Linked DNA regions of Homo sapiens: region 1 is linked to region 2. A link means that fine-mapping ties the variant in region 2 to the expression of a gene that starts in the linked region. Tissue or cell type: monocytes. Region 2 holds a variant in brackets; the other region holds the start of a gene. All regions are shown on one strand. Distances are between the middles of the regions. Region 1 holds the start of CPT1B (carnitine palmitoyltransferase 1B). Region 2 overlaps SYCE3 (synaptonemal complex central element protein 3).

Region 1 (4,361 bases), 21 kb before region 2:
GCATTTGGGGACTGAATGTCCACCTTATTCTCCCAGGGGCTTTGACATTGGGAACCATTTTTGTGAGTGGGTTTATGATTATACTCACGAGGAATGGCCTTTCTACAAAGCAAGGCCCACAGACTACCCCACTCAAGAACAGCAGGTATGTGGGCCAGAGGCTGGGGAGCAGGACCCATCCTGTGAGGAAGGAGGGAGGTGGAGTCTGGAAGGAATGGCCGGAAAGGATGTTACCTGGGAAATACTCCACAGTCTCCCCAATTCCTGACTCTTGGCCATTGATCGTAGTTGCATTTTATTCGTCATTACCTGGCAGAGGCAAAGAAAGGTGAGACCCTCTCCCAAGAGGAGCAGAGAAAACTGGAAGAAGATTTGCTGGTAGAAGTCAGTCGGTGAGGAAGGAGGGGCAGGGTGGGGTAGGGCAGAGCAGAGGAAAGAGGGATTGGGGAAGAGGCAGATTTATCAAGCTGCAGGGAAGGTGGCTGTGGAGAGTGGAGTTAGGACAGTGGGGGAGAAGTTAAAACTGTAGGGATTGGCCAACCTGGGTGAGGGGATCCAAGCAGTGCTAGACATGCTCTTGAATGCCCCTCCTTTTCCTGCCCTCCCCCCAGGTATGCTCTGGCATCCCATTTCTTCTGGGGTCTGTGGTCCATCCTCCAGGCATCCATGTCCACCATAGAATTTGGTTACTTGGTAAGTGACCCTGGGGATGGGAATGCTAGCTGGGGGGCTGGGGAGCAGCAGCAGCCACACTCTTCCAGGAGGCCTGGGGAGTCCCGGGTGGCTGTGGGCAGCCTGAGGTGGATGTAGAATGCTGGTCCCACGTCTTCTCACCACTGTGTGGGGTGGGTTTCCTTCCCTAGGACTATGCCCAGTCTCGGTTCCAGTTCTACTTCCAGCAGAAGGGGCAGCTGACCAGTGTCCACTCCTCATCCTGACTCCACCCTCCCACTCCTTGGATTTCTCCTGGAGCCTCCAGGGCAGGACCTTGGAGGGAGGAACAACGAGCAGAAGGCCCTGGCGACTGGGCTGAGCCCCCAAGTGAAACTGAGGTTCAGGAGACCGGCCTGTTCCTGAGTTTGAGTAGGTCCCCATGGCTGGCAGGCCAGAGCCCCGTGCTGTGTATGTAACACAATAAACAAGCTTCTTCTTCCCACCCTGTCCTGGCCCTGCTGAGCAGCAGCAGAAAGTACCAAACCGAGCAGTACACACAAAGGGACTCTTCAGTGCTCTGGGATTGAAAGTGGTTAGCGTTCATGCTGCCAGTTGGGGTCCCCCATCCCTCCCCAGTCCCCTGGCTGCAGCTTAGAATAATAAATACTAGGACTTGGGGAGGAGGAGAGTGATGGGGGTATGAAGACGACCCTGAGGTGGGGATGCCGCCCGGAGCACCAGCGATCCCAGAACAGGCAGCAGCTGACACATCGGTGACCTTTTCCCTACATTTGGCTATTTTTAGCTCTAAAGCCACCATCCTCACGAGACTCTGGGGCCCCCCAGGCTCCCAGACCTTTGAGCAACCTTCACCGCACAGAAACCCAGCCGCGCCCTGCAATTCCCACCGCGGAAGGTGGGTGGGTTCTGGTTCTCGCCCCACGTTTTTCCCCGACCCCGATTTGGGAGTAGGTGTCAGGTTCCTGGTGAGGGCGGGGCGGGGGTGGCTAGGCCTGAAGGACGTGGGGACACGGGCCAGAGTGGCTGGCCCCACGCACGGACAGGAGTGAACCCGAGCTGTGAGTAGGGGCCGGCACAGGGCGGCCCGCGGGGGTCTGGGCCCTCAGCCCTGCACAGGGGCGAGGACGGCGCTGGGGCCCGCGCGCTCGGGTGGGGAAGGGCGGGCTCCCGAACCCTGCCTCTGTCCAGGCCGGCTCCACTTCCAGGGGCGCCTCTCTCCCCTGCCCGCGCCCTCGCTGACGCCCCCCAACTCCAGGCTGCCCTTCGCCGTCCTTGGGGCTCCTGGAGCTTTCAAGGCCCAAATCCCCTGCACCACAGTGGCTGTGCCCACCCGGAAGGCTGGCGCGAGGATTTGGCGGCGGTTGGCCTGGCGGGGGGCGCGGGCCGGGGGCAGCCGCTAGTCGCGGGGTGGGGGGCGCGAGGGGTCGCGGACTGGCTGGGGGCGTCTCGGCGCGGCTGGCGGCGGGGCCGGCCTAAGCGCGCCCGCGCACCCATCTGCCCCCGTCCTAGGTGCCGACCAACCCCCAGGATGGCGGAAGCTCACCAGGCCGTGGCCTTCCAGTTCACGGTGACCCCAGACGGGGTCGACTTCCGGCTCAGTCGGGAGGCCCTGAAACACGTCTACCTGTCTGGGATCAACTCCTGGAAGAAACGCCTGATCCGCATCAAGGTGCGCACAGGTGCTTCTCCCAGAGCGTAGGCAGAGGCCGGCTGTCAGCTGTTAAGCGCTTTGTTAGGGTCCCTCACTGCCTCCTTGGCTGGCACTTCTGCCCGGTACAGGTTGTGGAAGTACAGACACCAGAGGGGTGCACAGGATGTGGTCGGACACAGGGAGCTGTGGGTGTGGCGGAGGAAGGAGCACAGCAGGGCATCAGGAGAGAAAGCCTTCCAGGCCAAGACCAGGAGCCAGTTCCCAAGACTTCACAGGCAGGCTAACCTCCCGCCTTCCGGCTCCATAAGGGCGCCTGTTTCTGCCCACAGAATGGCATCCTCAGGGGCGTGTACCCTGGCAGCCCCACCAGCTGGCTGGTCGTCATCATGGCAACAGTGGGTTCCTCCTTCTGCAACGTGGACATCTCCTTGGGGCTGGTCAGTTGCATCCAGAGATGCCTCCCTCAGGGGTAAGGAGTGAAACTGGAAGGGCACAGGTGCCACCAGGGAGGGCTGGGCCCAGCTCCCAAGGCTGAGGTTCCTGAGCTGGGCAGATACAGGACAGCAGCCATTGGCAGTCACGGGGCAGCCCTCCCCTATGACAACCATTGTCTTAGCCCTACATCCGCTCATTTGATGCAGTCAGACATGAGTGTGCCCAGGGAGGTTCTTCCCCTTGGTGTCTCCCCTGAGACAGTTCACAGCCACCCGAGGCTGGCCTCAAGAGGACCCCCTGCAGCCCTTGCCCCTCTCCAATAGGTGTGGCCCCTACCAGACCCCGCAGACCCGGGCACTTCTCAGCATGGCCATCTTCTCCACGGGCGTCTGGGTGACGGGCATCTTCTTCTTCCGCCAAACCCTGAAGCTGCTTCTCTGCTACCATGGGTGGATGTTTGAGATGCATGGCAAGACCAGCAACTTGACCAGGATCTGGGCTGTGAGCAGCAGCCAGTGGAGGGGTTCAGGCACCTGGGTTGAGACTCTTTGGACTCCTTTGGGGTTCTGAGCTAGACGGGAGAGGCAGACAGGGCACTGGTGCCTGGTGTGTGGTTTGTCCTGGAGGGGCTGGGATGGCTCTGAGGGTCTCAGGGAGTTGCTGGTTGGTTTCCATTTTTTCCACTGGCTCCCACCCCAGCACTCTGCTCTGTACCCCCAGATGTGTATCCGCCTTCTATCCAGCCGGCACCCTATGCTCTACAGCTTCCAGACATCTCTGCCCAAGCTTCCTGTGCCCAGGGTGTCAGCCACAATTCAGCGGGTGAGGGCCTCGCTTGGGCATCCCAGTGGGCAGGGGAGGTTGGATTCAGGAGATGTTTCCAAATATAAGGTTCTGTGCAAAGAGTGGCCTTAAGGGCTTGAGAATAATGGGGCTGGGTGAGGAGGGAGAGGTGGGAAGAGGATTAAGATAGAGGCAGCCCTTGCCATCTGGCCCCACGGTGATGATAACTGGCTGGACAGTACCTAGAGTCTGTGCGCCCCTTGTTGGATGATGAGGAATATTACCGCATGGAGTTGCTGGCCAAAGAATTCCAGGACAAGACTGCCCCCAGGCTGCAGAAATACCTGGTGCTCAAGTCATGGTGGGCAAGTAACTATGTAAGTTCCTGCCCCTGGGCTCACTGTCACCTGCCATGTGTCCTGGCTGCACCCGCCCCAGCTCTAACCTTCCACCTCCCCACAGGTGAGTGACTGGTGGGAAGAGTACATCTACCTTCGAGGCAGGAGCCCTCTCATGGTGAACAGCAACTATTATGTCATGGTATGAACTAGAGCCCCCAGGTCCCCGCACGTGCTCAGCTCTGTCCCAGCTCCAAGGCAAGGGATCTGGAGGACAGCCCAGAGCTCTAGTAGCAGCTTCCGTGGGCAAGTGGGGGTTATGGAGTGAGGCCTGAGGGAAAGGGAAGAGAGAGAGGAGATCCTAGAAGAGTCCAGAAGCAGCTTAGGGGCAATGGGGATCCTAAGGATGAGGAGAGTGGAGACCGCCAGCCTGCCACCGCTTCTCAGAGTCCCGGGGTCACTGCCCCTGCCCAGCTCGG
Region 2 (4,384 bases):
CGTCTCAAGAAAAAAAAAAAAAGAGTGTGTAGTGAGAAGAGAAGGGGCTAAAAGGACCTTCCTTGACCCATTAGAGCCAGTAAAGGAGAGAGCCAAGAAAGAGCAGGGAAGGAACTACCACAGGTGGACAGAGTTTGGAGAGAACAAGGTTAAAACATCAAGAGAAGAGAATTTTGAGCAGGAGAAAATGGCCAAATGTCAGTGCTGCAGAGATGTTAAATAAAAGAAAGACAGAAAGTGCCCTGGGTGTGCCAGTTATGACTTTGGTGAGAGCATTGTCAGTGAATGTCAGAGACAGATGCCAGATGACAGTGGAGTGAGGAGGACAGACAAACGTGTGAGGCCTGGCTGCTAAAGGAAGGAGAGGGAATAGCTATAGGAGAGGGTTAAGGAAGGTGTTCTGGACATTTCTTCCTCCCATCACCCACTATTAGCCCCCTGCCCTGCCACCTGCCTGTACCTCCCCACTTACTCTTAGCAAACTATTCCTACTTACCAAAAAGCAGGACGGAGTCCCTGCACGTGGAATGGCTCCATGCCCACAGAAGTACCTCCTTTACAGATCCCGAAAGACCATACACCCTGACCCTGCACCCTCATTCTCAGATCTGCCTGTCAGGCCTCCTGGAGGGCCCTTTGCTCCTCCCTCAGAATCTCTACCCTTAACAGGGAGGACGGCAAGAGGGGAAAGATAATAATTTTCTTTCTTTTTTTTTTTTGAGATGAAGTTTCGCTCTTGTCACCCAGACTGGAGTGCAATGGCACAATCTCGGCTCACTGCAACCTCCACCTCCCGGGTTCAAGCGATTCTCCTGCCTCAGCCTCCCCAGTAATCCCAGTAGCTGGGATTAGGCACCTGCCGCCACACCCGGCTAATTTTTATATTTTTAGTAGAGACTGGGTTTCACCATGTTGGCCAGGCTGGTCCCAAACTCCTGACCTCAGGTGATCCACCCACCTCGGCCTCCCAAAGTGTTGGGATTACAGGCATGAGCCTCCGCGCTTGGCCACGATCATGATTTTCTTTCAGAATTAGAGCTTTACAATGGTCAACTCCTTTATTCAGCCAACATTTATTAAGCACTTGCTGTTTTCCTAGCTCTGAGCTGAACACTAGGAATAGTTCATTGGAAAGATGGCCTCTGCTTTCCAGGACCCCACAGTCTAGTTGGGGAGGTAGAGGAATCCACAATCACAATACCAGCTAAGAGGCACCGTGATGAGGGAGGCCCAGGAAGTCACAGGAGAACTGAGTGGAGGCCCTTAACTCTGAAGTAAAGACCAGGAAGGCTTTCCCCACATGTACAGTGGGAACAATACCGCAGCATCTGTGGCCCATCCCTCCCTGTTTTATGCTTACCTGGCTCATTCCTTCACCTTCATGAGGTTACAAGTTCCCTGGCAGCTCTTACATTATTTATCTATTTCTCTCTTTTCTTACTAGTGCCTTGTAGATAAATAGGTGAGCATCAAATATTAACAGAATGAATTAATGTATATTAATAAAGGTGAGGAGAGGATCTGGAGTGATGTAATTACTGTTCAACATTTTAAATAACAACGGATATGATTTATTAAGTGCTCATTACGGTAGGTACTGTGCTGAACAGTATATAATTTATTTCAATTAATCCTCACAAAACTCCACAAGATATAGGTAATACTAATAATTCCCGTTTAAAAAATACAAAACTTGGCTGGGTGTGGTGGCTCACATCTGTAATCTCAGCACTTTGGGAGGCCGAGGTGGATAGATCACCTGAGGTCAGGAGTTTGAGACCAGCCTGGCCAACATGGAGAAACCCCATCTCTACTAAAAATACAAAATTAGCCGGGCGTGGTGGCACTTGCCTGTAATCCCAGCTACTCAGGAGGCTGAGGCAGGAGAATCACTTGAACCCAGGAAGCAGAGGTTGTGGTGAGCCGAGATCGTGCCACTGTGCTCCAGCCTGGGCAACAAGAGCAAAACTTCGTCTCAAA[A/G]AAAAAAAAAAAACTCAAAAAAATTACCAAAAATTTGTCGAGAAGATGTGTAAGTTGCCAAAAGTAACACTGCTGATATGAGGTAGCGCCAAGATTTGAACCCAGGCAGCTCAATTCCAGAACCAGGACAGTCTCTATGGGGCACTGCCTCTAATGCCCAGGAGAATTCTTCTGGAAAGTTAAGTTGATTATAATTTTTTTTAATGTATGAATCATTTCATATTTTAAAATTAAACGTACCCGCCTCCAGGCTCCCATCGCTTGATGTCTGTAATTATTACATTAACTGCTTCGACATCTGTCACATCCTGGTTTGTCATATGGTGTGTGTGACTTACTCCCATATTGCACTAGAAATTCCTTAGGTACAGGAATTGTATCTTTGAAACACATCAGCACAATAGCTTGCATCTTAGTGGGTACTCAATATGGTTTTGCAAGAAAAAATTCCATGTCACCATTATGACAGACTTTTTTCATTATAATGAAGATGTTTTCTGTGTTAATGACTCCAGCCTTCAGCTACGTTTGTATGGCAAAGATGGAAGAAAGGGGAAGGACAACTTATATGTGCCGAATGCTATGCTGGGGCCTTTAGACATGTTCCCATTTAACCTTCACAACAGCCCTGTGGAGTACGTGGTATTGTCTGAATCTGAGAGATGGGGAAAGAATTCCTTAGAGAAATCACTGAGTTATAACCAGTGGAGCTGGATTTGAAATGTAGGTCTGTCTGACTGCAGCTTCTTTCTGTGCATTGCCTAGATGGATGATGCTGACCCTGAGGAAAGAAACTATGACAACATGCTGAAAATGCTGTCAGATCTGAATAAGGACTTGGAAAAGCTATTAGAAGAGATGGAGAAAATCTCAGGTAGGATGTGTGAACCCAAAAGTATCTGAGACAGGTCTCAATCAATTTAGAAAGTTTATTTTGCCAAGGTTAAAGATGCACCTGTGACACAGCCTCAGGAGGTCCTCAGGACATATGTTCAAGGTTGGCAGGGTACAGCTTGCTTTTATACATTTTAGGGAGAGAGAATACATCAGTCAGTACCTGTAAGATGTACACTGGTTCGGCCGGGCGCGGTGGCTCACTCCTGTAATCCCAGCACTTTGGGAGGCCGAGACGGGTGGATCACGAGGTCAGGAGATCGAGACCATCCTGGCTAACACAGTAAAACCTCGTCTCTACTAAAAATACAAAAAATTAGCTGGGTGTGGTGGCAGGCACCTGTAGTCCCAGCTACTCGGGAGGCTGAGGCAGGAGAATGGCATGAACCCGGGAGGTGGAGCTTGCAGTGAGCCGAGATGGTGCCACTGCACTCCAGCCTGGGCGACAGAGTGAGACTCTGTCTCAAAAAAAAAAAAAAAAAAGATGTACATTGGTTCGATCTGGAAAGGTGGGACAACTCAAAGGGGGATGATTCCAGGTTATAGATAGATTTAAATTTTTTCTGATTGGCAATTGGTTGAAAGAGTTATGGTCTAAAGACCTGGAATCAATAGAAAGGAATGTCTGGGTTATGACGGTAAGGGGTTGTGGAGACCAGAGTTTTATCATGCAGATGAAGCCTCCGGGTAGCAGGCTTCAGAGGGAATAGATTGTAAAAAGCTTTCTTATCAAACTTAAGGTCTGTGTTCATGTTAATGCTAGTCACCTTTTCCTGAATTCCAAAAGAGAGGCAGGTATAACGAGGCATACCCAATTTCTCCTTCTCCTCACGGCTTGAACCAACTTTGGCCAAGCAATACACCCACCTTGGCCTCCCAAAGTGTTGGGATTACAGGTATGAGCCAGCGTGCCTGGCCAAATAGCTTTTATTCACTAGAGCAGACTTTAGAAAATTTCTCCTTAGAAATGTTTGCAATTTTTTGCCTATGTACTTTTGAACTATGAATAGCTGAGACACGTATCAGTTAATTTAGAGAGTTTATTTTGCCAAGTTTGGGGACACTTATCTGTGACACAGCCTCAGGGGGTCCTAATGACATGTGCCCAAGGTGGTCAGAGCACAGCTTGGTTTTATTTATTTATTTATTTATTTTAAGACAGAGTCTCGCTCTGTCGCCCAGGCTGGAGTACAGTGGCGTGATCTCGGCTCACTGCAAGCTCCGCCTCCCGGGTTCATGCCATTCTCCTGCCTCAGCCTCCCGAGTAGCTGGGACTACAGGCGCCCGCCACCACGCCTGGCTAATTTTTTGTATTTTTAGTAGAGACGGGGTTTCACTGTGTTAGCCAGGATGGTCTTGATCTCCTGACCTCGTGATCCGCCCGTCTCGGCCTCCCAAAGTGCTGGGATTACAGGCGTAAACCACCGCGCCTGGCCTTGTATTTTTAATAGAGACAGGGTTTCACCATGTTGGCCAGGATAGTCTTGATCTCCTGACCTTGTGATCTGCC

Evidence for each region. PIP is the estimated chance that this variant, and not a neighbour inherited with it, causes the effect. A credible set is the group of variants that fine-mapping cannot tell apart.
Region 1: it holds the start of CPT1B, and the variant in region 2 is the best candidate, but not a certain one, in a credible set for the expression of CPT1B in monocytes (TOPMed, PIP 0.85).

The regions. Positions count from the first base shown.
Region 1 is chr22:50,575,758-50,580,118 of GRCh38, reverse strand. CPT1B (carnitine palmitoyltransferase 1B) reads left to right here and starts at 1,692. Exons shown (of 20, transcript NM_152246.3): 1 at 1,692-1,733; 2 at 2,185-2,344; 3 at 2,656-2,795; 4 at 3,085-3,262; 5 at 3,482-3,583; 6 at 3,784-3,921; 7 at 4,007-4,084. The coding sequence starts at 2,204. It overlaps CHKB (choline kinase beta), which reads left to right. Exons shown (of 11, transcript NM_005198.5): 8 at 37-145; 9 at 289-392; 10 at 612-693; 11 at 864-1,156. The coding sequence ends at 938. CHKB-CPT1B (CHKB-CPT1B readthrough (NMD candidate)) reads left to right here. Exons shown (of 30, transcript NR_027928.2): 8 at 37-145; 9 at 289-392; 10 at 612-693; 11 at 864-1,083; 12 at 2,185-2,344; 13 at 2,656-2,795; 14 at 3,085-3,262; 15 at 3,482-3,583; 16 at 3,784-3,921; 17 at 4,007-4,084. RefSeq lists silencers at 1,661-1,780, 2,121-2,200, 3,685-3,979 and an enhancer at 3,685-3,979.
Region 2 is chr22:50,554,767-50,559,150 of GRCh38, reverse strand. SYCE3 (synaptonemal complex central element protein 3) reads left to right here. Exons shown (of 3, transcript NM_001123225.3): 2 at 2,746-2,854. The coding sequence starts at 2,746. Among named protein-coding and RNA genes, the nearest start is that of SYCE3, 6.0 kb to the left of the region's middle. The variant A/G (reference allele first, on the strand shown) is at 1,981.